Linked DNA regions of Homo sapiens. The protein of the gene in region 1 purifies or fractionates together with the protein of each later gene. This does not show direct contact. Each region holds a gene or a part of one and is shown on either strand. Other genes may lie near its edges.

Region 1 (7,026 bases):
ATTAGTCGGGTTTGGTGGCACATGCCTGTAGTCCTAGCTACTCCGGAGGCTGAGGTGGGAGGAACACCTGAGCCTGGAAGGCCAAGTGATTGCACCATTGCCTGCGCTCCAGCCTGGGTGACAGAGAGGGAGACCCTGTCTCAAAAAAAAAAAAAAAAAAAAAAAATTCCTGTGGAGTGGCTGGAGCCACAGCGTGATTTAAGGCACCCAAGACCTTTACAGCTCCTGTTAGTAAGTGAAACCTGAGGTTCTGCCTTTGTGCTACCTCTGTATCCCATATAGCCCTCCAGTGAATAAATCAATGAGTTTATGTTGAATAAATATATTGAATTTATATCGAATAAATATAAATTTAGATTGAATAAATAAATGGGGGTAAACAAATGAATGTGGGGATACAGCTTTTAATAGTTTCAGCCTTCATAGACTCATAGTTAATATATTCAGTCCTTTTACACAATACTGCAGTTAATTCTGCATATGATAGTCTCCTCAGGAAGGACATAGGCTGTCATTCATTTTGATTCTTGGCACATAGTATGCATTCATTATGGTGAATTAGTAAGCAAAAATGGGAAATTCATGTGTCTTTTGGAAAGTAGCTGGAGTCAGGATCTCCTGTTCACTTTGTACATCTCTATTGTATTTTCCTCATAAGGAGAAAACTTTGGCTGGGCATGGTGGCTCATGCCATCCCAACACCTTGGGAGATTGAGGCCAGGAGTTCGAGACCAGCGTGGGCAGCATGGCAATACTCCATTTATAACAAAAACAGAAATTAGCTGGGCGCGGTGGCTCATGCCTGTAATCCTAGCACTTTGGGAGGCTGAGGCTGGCAGATCACCTGAGGTCAGGAGTTCGAGACCAGGCTGAGGAACATGGTGAAACCCTGTCTCTATTAAAAATACAAACATTAGCTGGGTGTGGTGGCACTTACCTGTAATCCAGGTTACCCAGGAGGCTGAGGCAGGAGAATTGCAGGAACTTGGGAGGTGGAAGCTGCAGTGAGCTGAGATTGCGCCACAGCGCTCCAGCCTGGGCGACAGAGTGAGACTCTGTCTCAAAAAAGAAAAAAAAAGAAATTAACTGGGCATGCTGGTGTGCAACTGTAGTCCCAGTTACTTGGGAGGCTGAGGCAGGAGGATTACTTGAGCCTCGGAGTTTAAGGCTGCTTAAGTGATTGTCCCACTGCACTCCAGTCTGGACAGAACCAGAAAAAAAGAAGAAAACTTTCAGCTAAACAACTTAAAAGTAATATTATCCATTCTGTTCCTTCAAGGTTTTCCTTTTTTTTTTTTTTTAGACGGAGTCTCCCTCAGCCACCCAGGCTGGAGTGCAGTGGCGCAATTTCGGCTTACTGCAACCACTATTTCCCAGGTTCAAGCGATTCTCCCATCTCAGCCTTCTGAGTAGCTGGGATTACAGGCACTCGCCATCATTCCCGGCTAATTTTTGTATTTTAGTAGAGATGGGGTTTCACCATATTGGCCAGGCTGGTCTTCAACTCCTGACCTCAGGTGATCCACCCACCTTGGCCTCCCAAAGTGCTGGGATTACAGGTGTGAGCCACCGCACGTGGCGTAACGTTTTCCATTTTATAGATTGCTTCCAAATACAGTATAGCTTTTGATCCTCACAACACCTCAGTTGAGTAGGCAGGGTAGATACTGCTTTTTTACAGAAAAGGAACTGAACTCAGGCAAAAGTGAATTAAGGTTACGGTTGGGTCTGGAATTCCAGAGACTTTTTGATAATAATGATAATATTGTGAATAAGATGGTTCTCATTTTTCTAGACACAGCAGTTTGTGGCACTACAGCACCATGCCAGTGATCAGCACTCTCACCAAAGCCTGTCACTTCTCCCCAGCCTACCTCTCAGGGAAATCGTAATATCTGTGAAAGAGCTGTTTTTGTTTTTGTTTGTTTGTTGACACAAGGTCTCTGTCGCCCAGGCTGGAGTGCAGTGGCATGATCTTGGCTCACTGCAAGCTCCGCCTCCTGGGTTCACGCCATTCTCCTGCCTCAGCTTTCCGAGTAACTGGGACTACAGGCGCCTGCCACCATGCCCGGATTATTTTTTGTATTTTTAGTAGAGACGGGGTTTCACCATGTTAGCCAAGATAGTCTTGATCTCCTGACCTCGTGATCCGCCTGCCTCGGCCTCTCAAAGTGCTGGGATTACAGGCGTGAGCCACCGCGCCCGGCCATTTTTGTTTTTTTTGAGACGGAGTCTTGCTCTGTCACCCAGGCTGGAGTGCAGTGGCGCGATCTCGGCTGACTGCAACCTCCACCTCCTGGGTTCGTGCCATTCTCCTGCCTCAGCCTTGTGAGTAGCTGGGACTACAGGCGCCTGCCACCACGCCCGGCTAATTTTTTGTATTTTTTTTCTAGTAGAGACAGAGTTTCACCATGTTAGCCAGGATGTTCTGGATCTCCTGACCTCGTGATCCACCCACCTGGCTAATTTTTTTACTATTTGTACTGACAAGATCTTGCTATGTTGCCCAGGGTGGTCTCAAACTCCAGGGCTCAAGCAATTCTGCCACCTCGGTCTCCCAAAGTGCTGGGATTACAGGCGTGAGCCACCGCGCCCAACTTGTGAAAGAGCTTTGAAGTCATAAAGTTTTTTCTCTCTCCACCAGTTCCCTTGTACTTTCACTTTCAGTAAGCTGTGCCTCCAAAGTGGGGCTACAGCATCCCCACTCCCTGGTAATCTAATGGCTGGAAGGCAGCCGTTTGCTGTTAGGGTTCTTGGGGGATGTAGGCTACATAGAGGTAGGTACATTCCTGCTACATACAGGTGGTCCCTTGTACAGATAGGCCCATCCCCAGGACTATTGCTGCTGACAGCCGCCTCACCATGACATCAGGCCAAACCTAGAGACCCTGACTTTGGGGCTAGTGGAACTTTGCAGTTCTAGGCGTGTACATTAACACAGAGCTGAAGGGATCTTTAGAGATAATCTCATATGGACCCCTCCTTTTTTTGGTGAAGTGACTCCCTCAGGACTTGAAGCTAGAACTCAAACCCCGGTCTCCTGAGCCTCTCTCCCTCTTCCCCAGTTGGACTAAACTGAGGGTTTTTCTCCCCCTTTTTTTCTTTTTTTTTTTCCTTCTTTTTTTGTTTTTTTGAGACGGAGTCTCTCTCTGTCGCCAGGCTGGAGTGCAGTGGTGTGGTCTTGGCTCACTGCAACCTCCACCTCCTGGGTTCAAGCGATTCTCCTGCCTCAGTCTCGCAAGTAGCTGGGATTACAGGCACGCACCACCATGCCCAGTTACTTTTTGTATTTTTAGTAGAGATGGGATTTCACCATGTTGGCCAGGCTGGTCTTGAACTCCTGACCTTGTGATCTGCCCACCTTGCCCTCCCAAAGTGTTGGGATTACAGGCGTGAGCCATCGTGCCTGGCTGTCCCTCTTTTTTTCTAATTCCTAGTCTCGGGCCTGACACAGAGCAGATGCTCGATACATATTTGTTTAATGAACAAACATCCAGCAGCAGTGTGCTTGGTGTGCTGGGGTGTTGAACCTCTTGAGGTTGGCATGGGAAGGAAGAACAGATGGGGCTGCTGTCTGCTGGTGATGATGATTTTAGCCTTGGACATTACAACATAGAGGTTTTAGGATCAAACAGCTCACCTGAGTCGTGCTTTGACTTGGCTTGAGAAGCCAGAAGTCTTGTGTAATGTGTACTTTGACTTTCAATTCCCTTAATTTTCCTTCATTTTTTTTTCTTTGATTAGTTCTTTGGGGTGACTTTCAAGATGGACTCTACTCTAACAGCAAGTGAAATCCGGCAGCGATTTATAGATTTCTTCAAGAGGAACGAGCATACGTATGTTCACTCGTCTGCCACCATCCCATTGGATGACCCCACTTTGCTCTTTGCCAATGCAGGCATGAACCAGGTAAGGGTTTTTCCTTTTTTCTTGGCTTTTGGTTCACATAAGAGGCAGCAGAGCCCAGATAAAAGCACAGCCCTGGGGTCAGACCGATTCTGGTTCTGTCACTCCCTGTGTGATCTTGTGAAACTTTATGTGATGGGCCTCAGTTTCTTTGCAAAATGAGGAATAATATTGCGGGCCTGTAGGTATTAGTGAGAAGCGAATAAGATAACACATACAAAATGTTTAGCACGGTATTTCGCACATAGTACGTAGGTACTCAAACATTAGCTTTTTTTTTTTTTTTTTTTTCCTGAGACGGAGTCTCGCTCTGTCATCCAGGCTGGAGTGCAGTGGTGCAATCTCGGCTCACTGCAAGTTCTGCCTTCTGGATTCACGCCATTCTCCTGCCCCAGCCTCCCGAGTAGCTGGGACTACAGGTGCCCGCCACCATGCCTGGCAAATTTTTTTGTATTATCATTATTTTTTTTTGAGACGGAGTCTTGCTCTGTCGCCCAGGCTGGAGTGCAGTGGCGTGATCTGTGCTCACTGCAAGCTCCGCCCCCCAGGTTCATGCCATTCTCCTGCCTCAGCCTCCCAAGTAGCTGGGACTACAGGTGCCCACCACCAAGTACAGCTAATTTTTTTGTATTTTTAGTAGAGATGGGGTTTCACCGTGTTAGCCAGGATGGTCTCAATCTCCTGACCTTGTGATCCATCCGCCTCGGCCTCTCAAAGCGCTGGGATTACAGGCATGAGCCACCACGCCCGGCCAGCTATTATTATTTTTTAGAGAGAGGGTCTCACTCTGTCACCCTTGCTGGAGTGCAGTGGCATGATCCTAGCATGCTGTAGCCTCAGACTCCTGGGCTTAAGTGATCCTCTTATGTCAGCCTTCCAAGTAGCTAGGACTACAGGCATGCTCTACCATGTCAGCTTTTAAAATTATTTTATTTATTTTTTAATTTATTTATTGTTTTGAGACAGAGTCTCGCTGTCGTCCAGACTGGAGTGCAGTGGCACGATCTTGGCTCACTGCAATCTCTGCCTCCCGAGTTCAAGCGATTCTCCTGCCTTGGCCTCCGAAGTAGCTGGAACTACAAGCGTGCGCCACCACACCTGGCTAATTGTTGTATTTTTAGTAGAGACGGGGTTTCACCATGTTGGCCAGGTTGTTCTCGAACTCCTGACCTCAGGTGATCCACCCACCTCAGCCTCCCAAAGTGCTGGGATTATAGACGTGAGCCACCTTGCCTGGCCTAAATTTATTTATTTATATGCAGAGATGGGGGTCTCACCAAGTTGTTCAGGCTGGTCTCGAGCTCATGGCCTCAAGTAATCCTCCTGCCTTAGCTGCCCAAAGTGGTGTGATTACAGGTGTGAGCTACCACGCCCAGCCCACCTAATGCCTTTCTTGAAATTATTGCCACCAGTGCCATTTTGGATCCATTGCTGAAGAAAATTTATTAGTTAGTACGGTTTATTTGGGGAAGTTGAATTAAAAATATATTTGAGGCTGGGCGCAGTGGCTCACACTTGTAATCCCAACACTCTGGGAGGCCGAGGCAGATAGGTCACTTGAATCCAGAAGTTCGAGACCAGCCTAGGCAACATGGTGAAACCCTGTCTCTTATTAAAAATACAAAAAATTAGCCAGGTGTGGTGGTGCATGCCTGTAGTCCCAGCTTCTGGGGAGGCTGAGGCGGGACGATTGCTTGAGCCTGGGAGGTCAAGGCTATGGTGATCCCTGATCATACCACTGCACTTCAGCCTGCACAACAGAGTGAGACCCTGTCTCAAAAAAGGAAAGAAAAGAAAAAGACATTTGAAAGGTTTATCGTGAGAGAAAAGGGTTAACTCTTAAAATGATGAAAGCATGACAAGTTTATAAAGGAGTTTAAGAGGAGTTTGTCAGCATGTCTGTGACACTAAACAGTACTTCCCAGGCTGGTCGTGGCTGAAGGGGGTTCAGGTTAGATGGTGCTCTCAGCGCTTTCCTGTGATGGTTCTCTTGGAGCCCTGCTCCCCCGGGGCATCTGCAGCCCTTAGGATGCTTCTCACTCTGGGATGAGTTGACATTTTCTTTTCTCTTAGGTGTCTTTTCTGGCATGGAAAGTTAGAAACAATGGGGACATATTCTGCCTCTTATAATATTAACTATAAAATTATGAAACATGGGGCACAGTGCGCCTGTAATTACATCTACTCAGGAGGCTGAGACGGGAGGATCACTTGATCCTGGAATTACAAACCAGCTTGGGCAACACAGTGAGACTGGTCTCCCAAAAAAATTATGCTACTTGGGAGGCTGAGGCAGGAGAATCGCTGGAACCTGGGAGGCAGAGGTTGCAGTGAGCCGAGATCACGCCACTGCACTCCAGCCTGGGCAACAGAGTGAGACTCCGTCTCAAAAAAGAGAAAATTATGGGCCAGGCACAGTGGTTCATGCCTGTAATTCCAGCATTTTGGGAGGCCAAAGTAAGAGGATTGCTTGAGCCCAAGAGTTGGAGAGGAGCCTGGGCAACATAGGAAGACCCTGTCTGAAAGGAAAAGAGAAAAATTAAAGAAAAATTAAAGCAAAAGAAAAATTGAAAAATTAGCTGGTGGTGGCTCACACCTGTAGTTCCAGCCTCTTGGGAGGCTGAGGTGGGAGTATTGCTTGAGCCCAGGAGTTGAGGTGAGCCGTGATCGTGCCACTGGACTCCAGGCAGGGTGACAGAGCAAGACCCTGTCTCAAAATGGAAAAAAAAGAAAAATATTTTCAGTTATGTGTGAGTCCTATGCATATACCTAGAATTGGAGGCATTAATTTTAGGTGGTCTCATTCAACGGGATAGGCTTTTGGAACACTGGAAAGCTACTGTTTCTATTCAGACATACCTGGGTGCAAGCTTTGTCACCTTCCACATGAGCCGCCTGAACAAGAACCAGGGAGTACAGTGTTTGTAAACTTTTCTTTTTTTTTTTTTTTTTGTTTTTTTTTGAGACAGAGTTTTGCTCTTGTTGCCCAGGCTGGAGTGCAATGGTGAAATCTCGGCTCACTGCAGCCTACGCCTCCTGGATTCAAGCGATTCTCCTGCTTCACCCTCCCGAGTGGCTAGGATTATAGGTGTCTGCCACCACACCTGGCTAATTTTTATA
Region 2 (7,026 bases), on another chromosome or scaffold:
TTAAATAAGATCTATAAGCAAAAGTATTTCATAAAGTGCTAAGTTTAGTAAATGCTATTTTATTACTAGTAATATCACTAGTAGCATTATGTTACTAGCAGTAGCACAATCTGAAAGTCCTCCCCTTCCTCCTCCTCCATCAGGCTTAGCTGTCACACACTCCTTCTTGAGAAACAGTGGAGACAAAGCTCCACCTGTCACTACAACAAAGTTGACCGCTCTCACGCACTCCTTCTTAAGAAACAGTGGAGACAAAGTTCCACCCGTCACTACAACAAAGTTGACCTACCTTGCCAGGACAAGCCCATTCACAATTACGTTCTTGAAAGGCGGTTGTCCAAAGAGGGCCGTGGCCAGCACCAGCAGGGTATAAAACCTGAAAAAAAACCCCAAACAGTTCAATAAAAATAGAAATGAAGTCCAAGCATAAGAAAGAAACTGTATTTATTCATTGAATTTCTATTTTTGATAAGTCACACTTCTTGAGAATCACTTAAAGCAATGATTCTTAATCCTGGTTACTGGAGACCAATCAAATTACTGTCTAAGATTTGAAAGAAGCATTGAAATAAACGTCTGGAATGATTTACTGACCATTTCTCTGTTACCAGAGCTCCCAGGAAGTCTGTGTGGAGAGCCACATGGCAGCACTGGGTGGCCTCTCAGGACCACCCAGAAGCACCTAGCTGAAGATGAAGGATGGGTTTTGAATTTGGCACAAGATCATATGGAAAAGACAATTTGATGACAAAAGATGCAAAATGCACTCTCACCCAAAAGTGATAAGGCAGACTAGAAAATGCTTTTATTCTGTAAAATGTTATGTACCTCATTTATGTGCTACCTAGCTTGTTTCCCAAATGAACTCATATCCCTGACCACTGTCCTGGGGGTGATGCTTTCCTGCCTCTCTTACCTAGTCCTGCACTCTGAGAACATCAAGGGACATGAGCTGAGGAGACCAGACCCCATAGTTAACATAAACACTGATCCAGATATCCCTCCCACTTCTAAAGGAGAGTTGGGAGGAGCCCTGGTGCCCAGGAGAGGTAGCCCAGGCCTCAGGAATGGAGAAGGAGGCAGGCACCAAGGACACGGGATCCACATGAGGACTGTTACCAGCTAACAGACTTTGCTACTCCTCAAAGGAACAAGCTCATTGGTAAGGCATCTACCCCTTTCTAAAAACAGAATTTGTGCTGGGTAGCTGTTCCTATAGACAAAAAGGACTGGAATCTGAAGACAGCACATTCCAGAACATGAAGACTTGAATTCAATGATTACCCAAAGCTGTCAAAGAGAGAAAATGACACCAACAATTCCTTTAACACACCCCTGCAGAAACATTACTGTGAATGTATAATTAAAACCTGGGCTGGGCGCAATGGCTCACGCCTGTAATCCCAGCACTTTGGGAGGCTGAGACGGGTGGGTCACTTGAGGTCAGGAGTTCGAGACCAGCCTGGCCAACATGGTGAAACCCAGTCTCTACTAAAACTACAAAAATTAGCTGGGCATGGTGGTGCATGCCTGTAGACCCAGCTACTTAGGAGGGTGAGGCAGAAGAATTGCTTGAACCCAGGAGGCGAAGGGTGCAGTGAGCCGAGATCACACCCCTGCACTCCAGCCTGGGCAGCAGAGTGCAAGATTCTGTCTCAAAAAAAAAAAAAAAAGTAAATAAAGCCTGGGCCAGCAAAGCCAATCCATGGAAAGAAAGTAATTCACCTTCTTCCAATTAAGGAACTGTTTTACATAAGGCACCAGATAAAAATCAATGCCCAAATCCTCTCTCATATGTATATTTTTTAAAAATCTGGATTTTTTTAGAATGTTGATTTATAAGGCTAGCCTCAATATCTGAGCACATTACCAACTATCCCTCAAATTTCTAGCACCCAAACTACTGTCTTTTATGCAAATACTCAAACATTTGAGTAAATGATCTGACGTAAGCTAAGAACACATAACTTTTTTTATCATTTTAACATCCAGTGTAACACATATATTCCAAAATGCCAGTGAGATCATTGAAATTGTAAAACTACAGCCCTATTGTAGTGGGAGAGTCCTACTCAAAAGGCACTTTAATGTCCGTGCTTGGTGGTGGAGGGGAGAGGGCAGGAATGTAGCCTGTCTTATTTGCCACAATCTCTCCATCACCCAGTAGATAAATGGCAGTGACTTAGTAAAATACTCCCTAAATAAAATAAAATCAATAAAACACGTGATGAAAGAACAAGGAGGCATACCATCCTCTGGTTTGGTCGATGCCCTCGGCAATGAAATCTGCAGGAAAAGCATCCTCAAACTCCCTCTTGTTTTCAAACGGGTAATGAACCTGAGCATAGGGCATGCTGCCACTCTCAAACCAACAGTCAAACACTTCAGAGATGCGGTGCAAGGATCCCTTCCCACAGCGTGAAGGAATGGTCAGGTGGTCAACACTAACAAACAGAAAAGTAGTCATTTCTATTAACTGTAAGCATAACAGAACTTGCAGTTTAATTGCTAATAGGAAACACAAAACCCTGACAAGATATTATACACATTTGCAAACAGAAATATCAGCAATTCTCAAAGGCTTTCAGAGAGCACCATGAATCCTCCATCTGAAAGGTTATGCACCATTCACCTCACATTTCACAAGGACAGAGGCCACAATACTGCAATATGACATGAGTCATCAGCAAAGTAATTCAGCAAGCTAGTCACTTCCATGTGTGGCTCTGTAATCTGCTAGAGACCAGGTCTTAATAGGAGAATCGTAAAACTGAAGTGAATCGAACATTTAGAAACTGACCTCTCTCTGTGGAGATCTGAGATCTTTGCTCCTGACAGTTCTTCAAGTTCCGCCACTGACCCAATGCATACCACCTGTCAAAAACAAAGTTCAATAGCAGGAGCTCCTTAGAGCCAAACAGAGCATACTGAGTTAATTTATATAGCATGCATGTTTACTTTGAGAGACTGATGATTTTCTTTTTCCTTTTTTTTTGAGATAGGGTCTCACTACCATTGCCCAGGCTGGAGTGCAGTGGCACAATCACAGCTCACTGCAGCCTCAGCTTCCTGGGCTCAGGTGATCCTCTCACCTAAGCCTCCCAAGTACCTGGGGCTACAGGCAGGCACCACCTCACCCAGCTAATTTTTTGTATTTTTAGTAAAGACAGGGTTTCGCCATGCTGCCCAGGCTGGTCTCAAACTCTTGGACTCGAGCTATCAGCCACCCTCAGCCTCCCAAAGTGCTGCGATTACAGGCGTGAGCCACCCAGCCTGAGACTGATGATTTAAAGGCACATTAACACACCAATCTGGGCCGAAGGATAGTATTTGCTAATGTGGCTTCTCTCTCATGAAAGACACAGCCTACTCTTAGTCTCTGAAGAGGCCAGGGTTGCCACTGCTCCTCTGTTTCCACCCCAGTATCAGAGGGAGTCCCTACCTAGAGAGAATCTTAAACATTCATAGCCATACTCTCAATGGATATTAAGGGTTTATTATGTGCAAATTGTCAAAGTAACTGGCATAAGTGAAACATCTTAGATTATTTCTCTAAGGCATTTTAGTTTCCTCCTGGCACCTGAATCTGGCTCATTAATCTAGAATCTTCCCAAGAAAAAGCTAGAGCTAAATTATAGTCATACAGTGCTTAATGGTGGGAATACATTCTGAGAAATGCATTGTTAGGGTGATTTCCTTAGGCAAACATCACAGACCTAGATGGGATGGCCTAAAACACAGCTAGGCTATATGGTGGAGCCTATTACTTCTAAGCTACAAACCTGTACAGCATGTGGCTGTACTGAATTCTGCAGGCAACTGTAACACAATGGTAAATGCTCTAGTTTTCATATGGTTTGTCCCCAGCAAATCTCAAGTTGAAATTTAATCCCCAGTGTGGCAGTATTGACAGATGGAGCCCGATGGGAGGCATCTGGGTCACAGGGTGGATCCCTCGTGAAGAGACCAATGCTCTCCTTCTGCAGTGAGTTAGTTCTCTCTCTATTAGCTCCTGTGAGAGCTGACTGTTGAAAAGAGCCTGCCCCCACCCCACCGCCCGTTTCTTCTCTTGCCATGTGATTTCTGCATACTCTGGCTCCTGTCCAGCCTTCCATCATAAGTGGATGTAGCCTGAGGTCCTCCCCACATGCAGATGTCTAGTCTTCAACTTTCCAGTCATGCAGAATCATAAGCCAAATAAACTACTTTTCTTTATAAATTATCCAGCCTCAGGTATTCCTTTGTAGCTACACTAAACAGACTAAAACAGGAAGTATTTGAGTTTCTAAACATTACAAAACACAGAAAAGGCACAGTAACCATATGGTATCATAATCTTGTGGGACCACTGTCGTATATGCGGTCTGTCATTGACTGAATGACATTATGTGGTGCATGACTATATTATGCTTGGACCCGATTAAAGCAATCAGACAAAGCCACAGGATGCTAGGATTATATCCAGGTAAAGAGCTGAGAGATGGGGCTAGCTGGGGCACTCAGAATGGAGGGATCATCTGACAAGGGCCACACCAGTAGGAACTGCTGTGCGTTCTCACCCAGGGAGCTTCTGATCCTAGTGAACACTGGTGGCCTCTTTCTCTGCCCTTCCTGTTCAGTCCTGAAAAGTCTTCTGATTCAGCTACTTCACTGTTGCCTTTCAGGTCCCTATGGGAGATTCACCAAGGTCCCCAGGGTGCTGCCGCTCATCACTGCAACAATGCTGTCAGCTTTGGACAGAAGGCCAAACACACAGATCTATCTGTATAGTAAGTCCTCGCCTGATGTCATTGAGAGGTCCCAGTAGCTGGAACTAAGTGGCGTGCACCACCATGCCTGTCTAATTTAACAAACATTTTTGTAGAGATGGAACCTCATTATGTTGCCTAGGCTGGTCTCAAATATCTGGTCTCAAGCGATCCTCCTGCCTTGGCCTCCCTAAGTGCTGCGATTACATGTGGGAGCCATCACACCCGGCCTAAAGTCAGTTATCAAGAACCTCTGTATGACATTAAGTGAGGACATAGTATATCCACATACATCTATATATCTACACACATCCTCTTATTCATTTGATTTTAGAAGTTAAAGGTCTGTAATGCTTTGGTAAATTTCTTTTCAAGTTTTCTTTTTTCATCATCTATAAAGTCAGTTTAACCATAAGCTAATAGTATACCTTAATGTAGGGGGAAGAAAAGACATCGGGGAAACACACAAAAAAAACATTTAAAGTGTGTATTTCCCTGAGAAAACTGTATCCTTTTATTTTTACAGAGGAAAGTTTTATAAATTGTATTTAATTCAAGGAAAAAAAGTTAAAAACCCCAGAAACAGATTATCTTATGTCATGATTCTAGAAAGGAATAAAGAGGAAAAAAGATGAAATAAGAAAGGGGCAAAGAAAAAAACACCCTATTCTTTTAAACCACATTCAGATTTCATGAACAAAATGCTTTAGCAAAAATCAACACAAGGAAATACTGCCATGCCTCACCTCCTCAAAGTCATCGCTGACCCACAGTGGGATGGGGGTGCCCCAGTATCTGTTTCTGGAAATTGTCCAGTCACGTGCATCTTTCAGCCAATTTCCAAATCGTTTTTCTCGTACCAACTCTGGGACCCTGCAATAAACAGATCACATAACCAATCACATAAAAATATGGAAAAATTCAACATGTAAATAATACCCACAGGAGCCTTTGTATAACGCTTTGTGGACCAAACACTCTGGAAACGTGGCGCTCACTGCAAAGAGAATGTCTTCTAAATGGACAGCATAGCACACACAACAGTTTGTGCTGCCATCAATGACCTACATCCAATAGATTACCCCACAGCACACAGGCCTCCCATGTCCTCCTCTTCAACTGGAGTACAGCTGCCACATACCTCTAACCAGTCACCTTAGCTTTAGCCAGCCTCATCCCATACAACTCTAGTCTTCACATTATCCTCACCATAGCAGTTTTTCTGAACTCATTAAGCAAAGGCCAACAGGCCAGGGGATTGGTAGCTGCTCTAGCAGCCCTCTCTATAGTCACCTCTCTGGTCATCCTTGGTCTTGAATTTCAGGCTCTGGCAATGAGGCAAGTTCCCTAGAATCCTTCTCACTTAACTGGCTTTGCCCATGCCTGCCCTCTGACACGCAGCCTGCCTGCCCTCTGACACGCAGCTTCCCTCCCTTCTGCATCCATCCTCTTGCATCCCTCCCACTCCCAGTACTCTTTATTCCTTGAGGTTCAGCTTTGCAGAAATCCTTTTCAAGCACAAGGCTGAGTCAGGGTAGGCTACCAGACCTCCCCTTCTTCTCTTGGGCACTGCAGTTACTGCCCTGTACTTCAAAGATCAGTTTATATGCCTGCACCCCCTCGAGGCTATCTTACTAATATTCTATATCTAGTATCTTACACATTAGGGGAACTAATTAGCTTACTAGCTCTAAAAATGAAAAGCTGTCTTTTGAGAAATCAGGACCACTCTGCTAAGAAATATTAGAAAGCTACAGTTTATAACTATTTCCTTTGCTGCCCTGAGATTCTCCCCATTCTCCTAAACTCAGATACAGTTTTCTAGAGTCTAGTTGGGTCCTTGTGAGAAGTTAAGAGTGGTGATTACTTTTCAAACTTGTAGTGAAAAACATTCATCTGAAATACACAGGTTCAAGCCTTGTTTCATTTTGTACCCAGAGGCTGAAATGATACTTCTTGGGCTATCACCTGCAGGACACATATCAGCTATGGAAAGCAAAGGCTTCTGTGCTTGGAGCTTATCCATACAGCCAAGCACAGGGTACATCATCCACTGCAGGACCAACAAGAGTAAGTACAAATGGCTTTTGCAGGTATATCTGAAAATAATGTTTACTCTGAAAATGACTATTATTGAAGGCTAGCAAACTCTGGCAGTACAGCCATATTTTTCCAAGGTCATTTCATTCCCTAAATCGAATAAATGGTGGTTTATCATTTCCAATGAGTTTAAAAAGAAAAATACTCCCTTACATACTTTATCACAAGAAGGATGTTA

Evidence for each region. Proteins that work in one complex are often made in the same cells at the same time.
Region 2: the proteins of AARS1 (region 1) and IARS1 fractionate together in Homo sapiens (co-fractionation; 2 studies listed by BioGRID). This does not show direct contact.

What each region holds. Positions count from the first base shown.
Region 1 is NC_000016.10:70,279,503-70,286,528, reverse strand, and holds part of AARS1 (alanine--tRNA ligase, cytoplasmic), read left to right. Parts: intron 1-3,744; 5' UTR 3,745-3,765; coding exon 3,766-3,909; intron 3,910-7,026. UniProt on the Homo sapiens protein: Catalyzes the attachment of alanine to tRNA(Ala) in a two-step reaction: alanine is first activated by ATP to form Ala-AMP and then transferred to the acceptor end of tRNA(Ala). Also edits incorrectly charged tRNA(Ala) via its editing domain.
Region 2 is NC_000009.12:92,262,680-92,269,705, forward strand, and holds part of IARS1 (isoleucine--tRNA ligase, cytoplasmic), read right to left. Parts: intron 5,622-7,026; coding exon 5,495-5,621; intron 2,875-5,494; coding exon 2,801-2,874; intron 2,445-2,800; coding exon 2,250-2,444; intron 377-2,249; coding exon 290-376; intron 1-289. UniProt on the Homo sapiens protein: Catalyzes the specific attachment of an amino acid to its cognate tRNA in a 2 step reaction: the amino acid (AA) is first activated by ATP to form AA-AMP and then transferred to the acceptor end of the tRNA.